Regions from separate parts of the Homo sapiens genome. Here regions 1 and 3 are each linked to region 2. Evidence: fine-mapped expression QTL. A gene starts in region 2. Each other region holds a variant in brackets. All regions are shown on one strand. Distances are between the middles of the regions. Region 1 overlaps M1AP (meiosis 1 associated protein). Region 2 holds the start of HTRA2 (HtrA serine peptidase 2). Region 3 overlaps TTC31 (tetratricopeptide repeat domain 31).

The links. PIP is the estimated chance that this variant, and not a neighbour inherited with it, causes the effect. A credible set is the group of variants that fine-mapping cannot tell apart.
Region 1: its variant is the best candidate, but not a certain one, in a credible set for the expression of HTRA2 in whole blood (GTEx, PIP 0.52).
Region 3: its variant is the best candidate, but not a certain one, in a credible set for the expression of HTRA2 in whole blood (TOPMed, PIP 0.51).

The regions. Positions count from the first base shown.
Region 1 is chr2:74,628,006-74,630,762 of GRCh38, forward strand. The region is part of intron 2 of M1AP (meiosis 1 associated protein); the gene reads right to left. It also overlaps the pseudogene TVP23BP2. Among named protein-coding and RNA genes, the nearest start is that of M1AP, 19 kb to the right of the region's middle. The variant A/G (reference allele first, on the strand shown) is at 1,103.
Region 2 is chr2:74,528,432-74,531,188 of GRCh38, forward strand. HTRA2 (HtrA serine peptidase 2) reads left to right here and starts at 1,502. Exons shown (of 8, transcript NM_013247.5): 1 at 1,502-2,081; 2 at 2,186-2,390; 3 at 2,480-2,674. The coding sequence starts at 1,576. AUP1 (AUP1 lipid droplet regulating VLDL assembly factor) reads right to left here and starts at 1,275. Exons shown (of 12, transcript NM_181575.5): 1 at 1,149-1,275; 2 at 931-1,068; 3 at 701-851; 4 at 320-504; 5 at 1-58. The coding sequence starts at 1,198. RefSeq lists enhancers at 719-1,548, 721-1,603, 2,059-2,188, 2,209-2,278, 2,309-2,388 and 1 more and a silencer at 1,579-1,668.
Region 3 is chr2:74,487,631-74,490,387 of GRCh38, forward strand. It overlaps TTC31 (tetratricopeptide repeat domain 31), which reads left to right. Exons shown (of 13, transcript NM_022492.6): 3 at 2,395-2,497; 4 at 2,614-2,757. Among named protein-coding and RNA genes, the nearest start is that of TTC31, 5.9 kb to the left of the region's middle. The variant C/T (reference allele first, on the strand shown) is at 1,260.

The sequences.
Region 1 (2,757 bases), 100 kb after region 2:
TATATATAAATAAACTCTTTCATTAATTTGGGATATATTGATATTACATGACCATGCGCATACCTATGGAACATGTACATACACTACAGAACAAATCTTGACAATGTTTCTACTGCCAACATACTTTCCATTCCCAACTGCTGGAAAGGAAATAAAAACAATACGAAAACTACTTTTCCTTTTTATAAATAGTTTTTAAGTGGAAAAACAAAGCCAATCCTCCTCATTGAGACATCAAATAAGCTCCAAAAGGTTCAGAGTCAAGAATCTGTTCAGTTGTTCCCCAATGTAACAAAGCACATAAGCTTTCTCTATTCAGGAAGCTTCTCCGATCATCTCCAGTGTTTCGTCTTAAAAACTGCTTTACAAGATACGAGGTAGCCATGTTGGTTAAATTATTTCTGCTGCTTACCTTACACCTGATGTAACCATATAGGTTGGCATCTGCTAACACCATACCCATGATAACCACTGCTAACCAGTTTACTCTGAAGGAGAACAAGGCACTAAAGGCAAATATCACCCAAAGCACTGCACAGACTGTAAGTCCCAATCAAAAGATTCTTGATTCAGCTTCTGACACAGTTTTATTATCTTGAGAGGAAGACTTTCTAGATTCAAACACCCAATGGTTCTTTCCATCTTCATCAATGTGACTCCACCAACATAGGCCAACCATTAGTCTACCTGTGATATTCTTTGCTGCCCAAAAGTCACATGACAACAACAAGATAATCGTCATCATACAGGCAATAAAGCTGCTGCTGAGTAACTCACAGAGAAGATAGACAATGATTGCACTGACTTGAAAGAATAAGTGGAAAACGATACCACTGAATATCTGATTTTTGGATTTTTTTGGTCTATTAGTTGTCTCCTCTTCTGCATCAATTAGTGAAACATCTGCAGTGTCATCATTACTATCCTGCTGCTTCATGGCCCAGAATACTTTCAAATAATGGTGATGATACTAAACTTCCTTATCTTGCACGGGAATGTCTTTAGTGTTTTTCCATTAAGAACAATACTAACTCTTGAATTGAAAAAGAAATGTATTATGCTAAAGAATAGCTATCTGTTTCTGTTTTATTAGAGTTTTTAC[A/G]AAACAAAATTGGATGTTGAATTTTATCAAATGCTTTTTCAGAAGTTACAGAGATGAACATGATCATAAGATGTTGCTTCTCCTTAGATAGGTTAACATAGTAAATTATATTAATAGATTTTCTAATATTAAAGCATATTTCAATTTTTGGCATATAATTCTTTTAATGTGACACTGGATTATATTGCCAATACAGGTAAACCATCCCTAATCTAAAAGTCTGAATCTGAAATGTTCCAAAATCCAAAACTTTTTGAGGGCCAACATGAGGCCATAAGTGGAAAACCGCACATCTGACCTCATGTGATGGGTTGCAGTCAAAACTTTGTTTCATGAACAAAATTATTTTAAAAATGTTGTATAGGCTGGGCGCGGTGGCTCATGCCTGTAATCCCAGCACTTTGGGAGGCCCAAGTGGGTGGATCATGAGGTCAGGAGTTTGAGACCAGCCTGGCCAAGATGGTGAAACCCCATCTCTACCAGAAAATACAAAAATTAGCTGGGTGCGGTGGCGGGCACCTGTAATCCCAGAAACTCGGGAGACTGAGGCAGGAGAATCGCTTGAACCTGGGAGGTGGAGATTGCAGTGAGCTGAGAACATGCCACTGCACTCTAGCCCGGGCGGCAGAGCAAGATTCTGTCTCAAAAAAAAAAAATGTATAAAATTACCTTCAGATGGTGTATATAAGGTATATACGAAACCAGTGAATTTCATGTTTGGACTTGGGTCCCATCCCTAAGTCATTATGTACATGCAAATATTCCAAAATTCAAAAAAATCCAAAGTCTGAAACACTTCTGGTCTAAAGTATTTTGGATAAGAGATTCACAACTTTTTTTTTTTTTTTTTTAAGACAAGGCCTTGCTCTGTTGCCTAGGCTGGAGTGCAGTGGCATAATCATGACTTACTGCAACTTCAACCTCTGGGGCTCAGGTGATCCTCCTGCCTTATCCTCCTGAGTAGCTGAGACTACAGCTATGTACCACCATGTCTTTTAAAAAACTTTTTTGTAGAGGTGAGGTCTCACTATGTTGCCCAGGCTGGTCTTGAACTCCTGGGCTTATGTGATCCTCCTTCCTTGGTCTCCCAAAGTGCTGGAATTATAGGCATGAGCCACCTCACCAGGCTGGTATATAGGTATTCAAAACTGATATATTTTTAATAGGCTCCCCTTCCAACAAGCTTTCTATGCTAAATATCTTCAATGCACCTTAAAAAAATTTTTATTTTATTTTAGGTTCTGGGATACATGTGCAGAACGTGCAGGTTTGTTACATAGGTAAACGTGTGCCATGGTGGTTTGCTGTACCTATCAACCCATCACCTAGGTATTAAGCCCCACATGCATTAGCTATTGGTCCTGATGCTCTCCCTCCTCCCGCCTCCTCAACGGGCCCCAGTGTGTGTTGTTCCCCTCACTGTGTCCATGTGTTCTCATTGTTCAGCTCCCACTTATGAGTGAGAACATGCCGTCTTTGGTTTTCTGTTCCTGTGTTAGTTTGCTGAGTATGATGGCTTCCAGCTTCCTCCATGTCCCTGCAAAGGACATGATCTCATTCCTTTTTATGGCTGCATAGTATTCCATGGTGTGTATGTACCACATTTTTTTTTAATCCAGCCTATCACTGATGGGCACTTGGGTTGGTTCCAAGTT
Region 2 (2,757 bases):
TCTCTGAACTTGCAGGGTAAGAGGTTGTACCACATCTTGGATAGAAAATGGCCAGGAACTAGAAGAGGAAGGAGAAAGTAGGATGGGAATCCAGCCAGCCTAGTCAGCAGCTCACACCTGCCTTATAACAGGCAACTGTCAAACTCTACAAGCACATAATTGAAGAATGAAGGGATTCAGGAGAAAGAACTTAAAGTGGACAGAAAGGAAATGAACTGGAGATGATGGGGTCTAAGGGCCGAAGAAAGTTGTAAAAACTCAAGGGCCCACAAGCTTGACCACCTACCCAGCTGGCGCCCCATACCTGTGCTAAACCCACCTGAAGCGCAGGAGCCCCTCCCGGCCATTGGTGGCCTCTTCCTCAGGGAATAGCAGCAGAGGAGTGGGGGGAAGCCTCGTGGAAGCACAGAATCTCTTGAGTGACTCCACCAACTCCCCCCGCCCATTCATCTCCATGAAGCCCCGAGACCAGCACACAAAGCTGGGGGGACTATTGAGTAGAGGCTGGGAACCAGGAGAAGAGAAAGCAAGAAGAAAAATATTGAGGAAAATGAAAAAAAAAACTGACATGTTGGGTAGAGGATCGGGGTTAGGGGTAAGGCTCAGTATCCTCCATGGGGAACGCGAGTGGGGACAGGGGGGCCTTCAGCTGGGCCCCAGGGAACCGCCCCGTGGCGCTCTCGGCCTCGCTCTCACTCACGGTGCTACAGGTGGTAAGCAAATTGACTATGTTGTGGTCGAAAGGTGTCACATGGTTGGAAATGAGGACCCTGACACTGTGATCCCGGAGTCCGGAGTCCTCCTGCCGGGCCACGAGCCCTAGCACCGCACACATGGTCCGCACTACGAATCTGGGGACACAGGAGGTGGTGACTGTGTGGCCTCGGGCCAGACCCAGCTCTGACACTCCCCGAACGCCCGCGTCGGAACCTGCGAAGGACGCTGTCTGGCAGCGCGCAGCTGACCAGGAAGACGTGGATCCCGAGAAAGAGGCGCAGGACGAGGAGGCAGAACCCGACTGGCGCGTAGAGCAGCAGCACGAGCAGTAGGAAGCAGTCACCCGGAAGCCTGGGGGCGAGAGGCGAAGTGGTCAGGCGCCGAAGGCCGAGAGCACGCGGGGATCGGTCTCTTCCCGCCGGGTCTCTTACCGGTGCGAGTCAAAGAGCCGCTCCGGCCCCGGCCCTGAGGGAAGCTCCATAACTGCTGCTTCAGGAGCGCCCGGCCGTCGCCGCCGCCGCCATTTTCGCGCCCGGCCGCAGGGGCTCTTGGGAAGGCGGAGTCTTTGGGCATCCGCCCGGGGTGAGGGGACCCGAAGTCCTGAGGCGCGCCGGAAGGGCTAGCGGTCCCAGCATACCCCGCGGCCCCTTGGGCCGTCTCACAACTCGCGTCCGGCGGAGACCACAATTCCCGGCATTCGTGGGGCAGGGAGGAGTCGGCCTCCCGGAATCCTGGTCCCGGCGTGCACTTCTGAAGGACTTCAGGTACCGGCGTGCCCCGCGTCCTACTGTCCGCCTGCTCGCGTCCTGGGTGCCGCCTCTGAGTAGGGCGGGCGAGGAGGCAGCCAAGGCGGAGCTGATGGCTGCGCCGAGGGCGGGGCGGGGTGCAGGCTGGAGCCTTCGGGCATGGCGGGCTTTGGGGGGCATTCGCTGGGGGAGGAGACCCCGTTTGACCCCTGACCTCCGGGCCCTGCTGACGTCAGGAACTTCTGACCCCCGGGCCCGAGTGACTTATGGGACCCCCAGTCTCTGGGCCCGGTTGTCTGTTGGGGTCACTGAACCCCGAGCATGCCTGACGTCTGGGACCCCGGGTCCCCGGGCACAACTGACTGCGGTGACCCCAGATACCAGGACCCGGGAGGCCTCAGAGAACTCTGGAACCCGTTCGCGCGCGTGGCTGGCGGTGGCGCTGGGCGCTGGGGGGGCAGTGCTGTTGTTGTTGTGGGGCGGGGGTCGGGGTCCTCCGGCCGTCCTCGCCGCCGTCCCTAGCCCGCCGCCCGCTTCTCCCCGGAGTCAGTACAACTTCATCGCAGATGTGGTGGAGAAGACAGCACCTGCCGTGGTCTATATCGAGATCCTGGACCGGTAATGGTGGGGGTAGACCGGGAGGCACTGAAGCCACAGGCTGGAGGGCGGGCGGGTAGGAGGGGTCAGAGCCTCCTCTTATCTGTGCTTTCCCTCCATTTCAGGCACCCTTTCTTGGGCCGCGAGGTCCCTATCTCGAACGGCTCAGGATTCGTGGTGGCTGCCGATGGGCTCATTGTCACCAACGCCCATGTGGTGGCTGATCGGCGCAGAGTCCGTGTGAGACTGCTAAGCGGCGACACGTATGAGGCCGTGGTCACAGCTGTGGATCCCGTGGCAGACATCGCAACGCTGAGGATTCAGACTAAGGTGGGGGCTGGGGTAGGCCAGGTCTGGTTGGAGCTGCTTATTTGCTCGCATCTTCAGATGACAGGTCTCTTTTACCCATTCTCCCTTAGGAGCCTCTCCCCACGCTGCCTCTGGGACGCTCAGCTGATGTCCGGCAAGGGGAGTTTGTTGTTGCCATGGGAAGTCCCTTTGCACTGCAGAACACGATCACATCCGGCATTGTTAGCTCTGCTCAGCGTCCAGCCAGAGACCTGGGACTCCCCCAAACCAATGTGGAATACATTCAAACTGATGCAGCTATTGATGTGCGTCCTGATAGGAGAGAAATGACAAATGATGGGGGAGGGGGGAGAGGCTGTGTGGTACAAGCACCAACTGATATATGGTG
Region 3 (2,757 bases), 41 kb before region 2:
TGCCTGACATGGGGCAGAGAGCATGCTTTATTTATTTATTATTAATTAATTAATTTATTTATTTTTATGAGACAGAGTCTCACTCTGTCACCCAGGCTGGTGTGCAGTGGTGTGATCTTGGCTACTGCAACATCTGCCTCCCAAGTTCGAGCAATTCTCGTGCCTCAGCCTCCTGAGTAGCTGGGACTACAGGCATGTGCCACCATGCCCAGCTAATTTTTGTATCTTTAGTATAGATGGGGTTTCGCCATGTTGGCCAGGCTGGTCTAAAACTCTTGGCCTCAAGTGACCCACCCGTCTTGGCCTCCCAAAGTGCTGGGATTACAGGCGTGAGCCACCATGCCCAGCCATATTTATTTATCGAGACAGGGTCTCCCTCTGTTACCCAGGCTTCAGTGCAGTGGCATGATCATAGTTCACTGCAGCCTTGAACTCCTGGGCTCAAACAGTCCTTCGATTTCAGCCTCCCGAGTAGCTGGGACTATAGGCGTCCGCACCACACCTGGCTCATTATTTATGCTTATGTTGCAGTTAGGAAGGTGACACAAACCCACCAGGAAATTGAATTTTAAGTATAAGACTGATGAAAGTGCCTAGCAGTATTGGAGATGCTGTTAAGCCAGGACTATCTTCTGAGGGAAGCCTTGGATCTAAAATTGTTTAGAAAATTGAATATACCTTAGTCATCTGAAGTCCTGCCTACAGATTTTTTTTTAGCACGCTGGAGTTTCTAAGTTTGTGGCTTCTAACTCAATAAGTCCAAAAGATCATTGGCTTCTAAGCGTCTCAGTCAGTCCTGCTCTGTTTAGGCCTGATTAGGCAAATAGGAATGTGATCATTCCTGTCTTTGAAGCTTATACTCCCTGAGGAAATGACTCCCATCAGGACCACAGAATGTGTGGGCCAGGCCTTAAAGAGTCTTGCCTTATTTTGTGAATGAGGGAGAGGTCCAAAGAAGTTAAATGACTTCTCCAGAATCAAACAGGCAGGTAGTGTCAGAGTGAAAATTTGGACAAGCTGGACATGATGGTGCAAACCTGAAGTCCCATCTACTCAGGAGGCTCAGGCAGGAGGATCGCTTGAGCCTAGGTGTTTGGGTCTAGCCTGGGCAACACAGCAAGACCCTGTCTCAGAAACAAACAAAAAATAGTCGGCCGGGCACAGGGGCTCACACCTGCAATCCCAGCACTTTGGGAGGCTGAGGCGGGTGGATCACTTGAGGTCAAGAGTTCAAGACAACTTGGCCAACATGGTGAAAC[C/T]GCCTCTCTACTAAAAATACAAATGGTATTGTGGCGTGTGCCTGTAATCCCAGCTACTTGGGAGGGTGAGGCAGGAGAATCGCTTGAACACGGGAGGCAGAGGTTGCAGTGAGTTGAGATCATACCACTGCACTCCAGCCTGGGTGACAGAGCAAGAATCCACCTCAAAAGAAAAAATAACCTCAGATGCAAGTGGCTCCACTCCAGCACAATGCCCTTTGGAATTCCATGCTGCCTGGCCAATGAGGAGAGCAATAGAAAGCAATCAATAACAAGTTTCTAAATTGTGTAACACAGATAATGTGGTTGCAGGTTAGTTGGAGGAGGCAGAGATAATTGGAGATGAAAGGGTCTGGGAAGGCTTTGAAGGGAGATAGAATTTGAACTGGACCTTGAAGGTGAGGCAAGATGTGAGAAAGAAGCTCAAGAGTTAGGAGGGATTGGAGAGCAGCTGGGGGAAGGCCCCAAGGCTGGAGGGAGCCTGGTGGTGGGAGGGAGGACAGCAGTGAAGCAGGGGAGGATTAAAAGGAGGGCTGGAAAGGTCAGCCTGGGAGCCTTTTGGAAGGCTCTGAATCGTAGGCTGAGGAATTAGGTTCAACTCTGCCTATGGCCTTGGCAGTGGGGGATTATTGGATGTCCCTGAGTAGGGAAGTAATTTCTTAGAGCTTAGTTTTGTGGAGAAACAGATGAGGTGCAGAGGAGCGGCCAGCCAGGAGCTGCTGTACTTGTTTAGGTGTGAGCTAGCCTCAGGGTGGGTTATGTGGAGCTGTTCATACTGCAGATATGACAGGGGGCCTAGCTGGAAGAGCAGGTGGGAGGGCTTCATTCCAGGGGCCTCAGTGTGGCTAACTCAGGTTGAGGAGAGAAGATCCTGGATGGTAGAGGAGGCCAGGTTGAATACCATACTCAACCCTTGGGAAGGCAGGAAAGCAGCGAGGGGAGGTGATTCACTACAATAGCTGGGGGCAGCAGATTTTGCGGTGCTGAGGAGGGAGAGGTCAGAGCCAGTGAGAGTCTCTGGGCTGGATAGCTGGTTGGTGGCTGCCATGGTGGAGAGATCAAGCCAGCGAAGCCCTTGCTCTCTCCAGGAACTGCCCCCAACACCAGCCTCCCCTCCCCTCCCCTCCCCTCCCAGGACATAGTGGATTTTCTTCGACGGCTTGTGGAGAGTGATCCCCAGGGCCTGCACCGGATCCATGTGGATGGGAGCAGCGGGCGGCTGCAGCTGTGGCACCATGGTGGGGAGTGCAGGGACCGGGCCCAGGGATCGAGGCTGGTACCCTGGGAGGGCTGACCCTCAGATGCACCCCGCTCTCATGTCCTTTCTTTCCTGTCTCTTTCTCCCTCCTGACAGATTACCTCCTGGGCCACTTGGATGATGAAGGGAAATCAACTGGACAGAGTGACAGGGGCAAGGGGGCTGAGGGACTGGGCACCTACTGTGGTCTCCGCAAGTCCTTCCTGTATCCTCCCCAAGAGTCTGAGCCCTGCCCTCAAA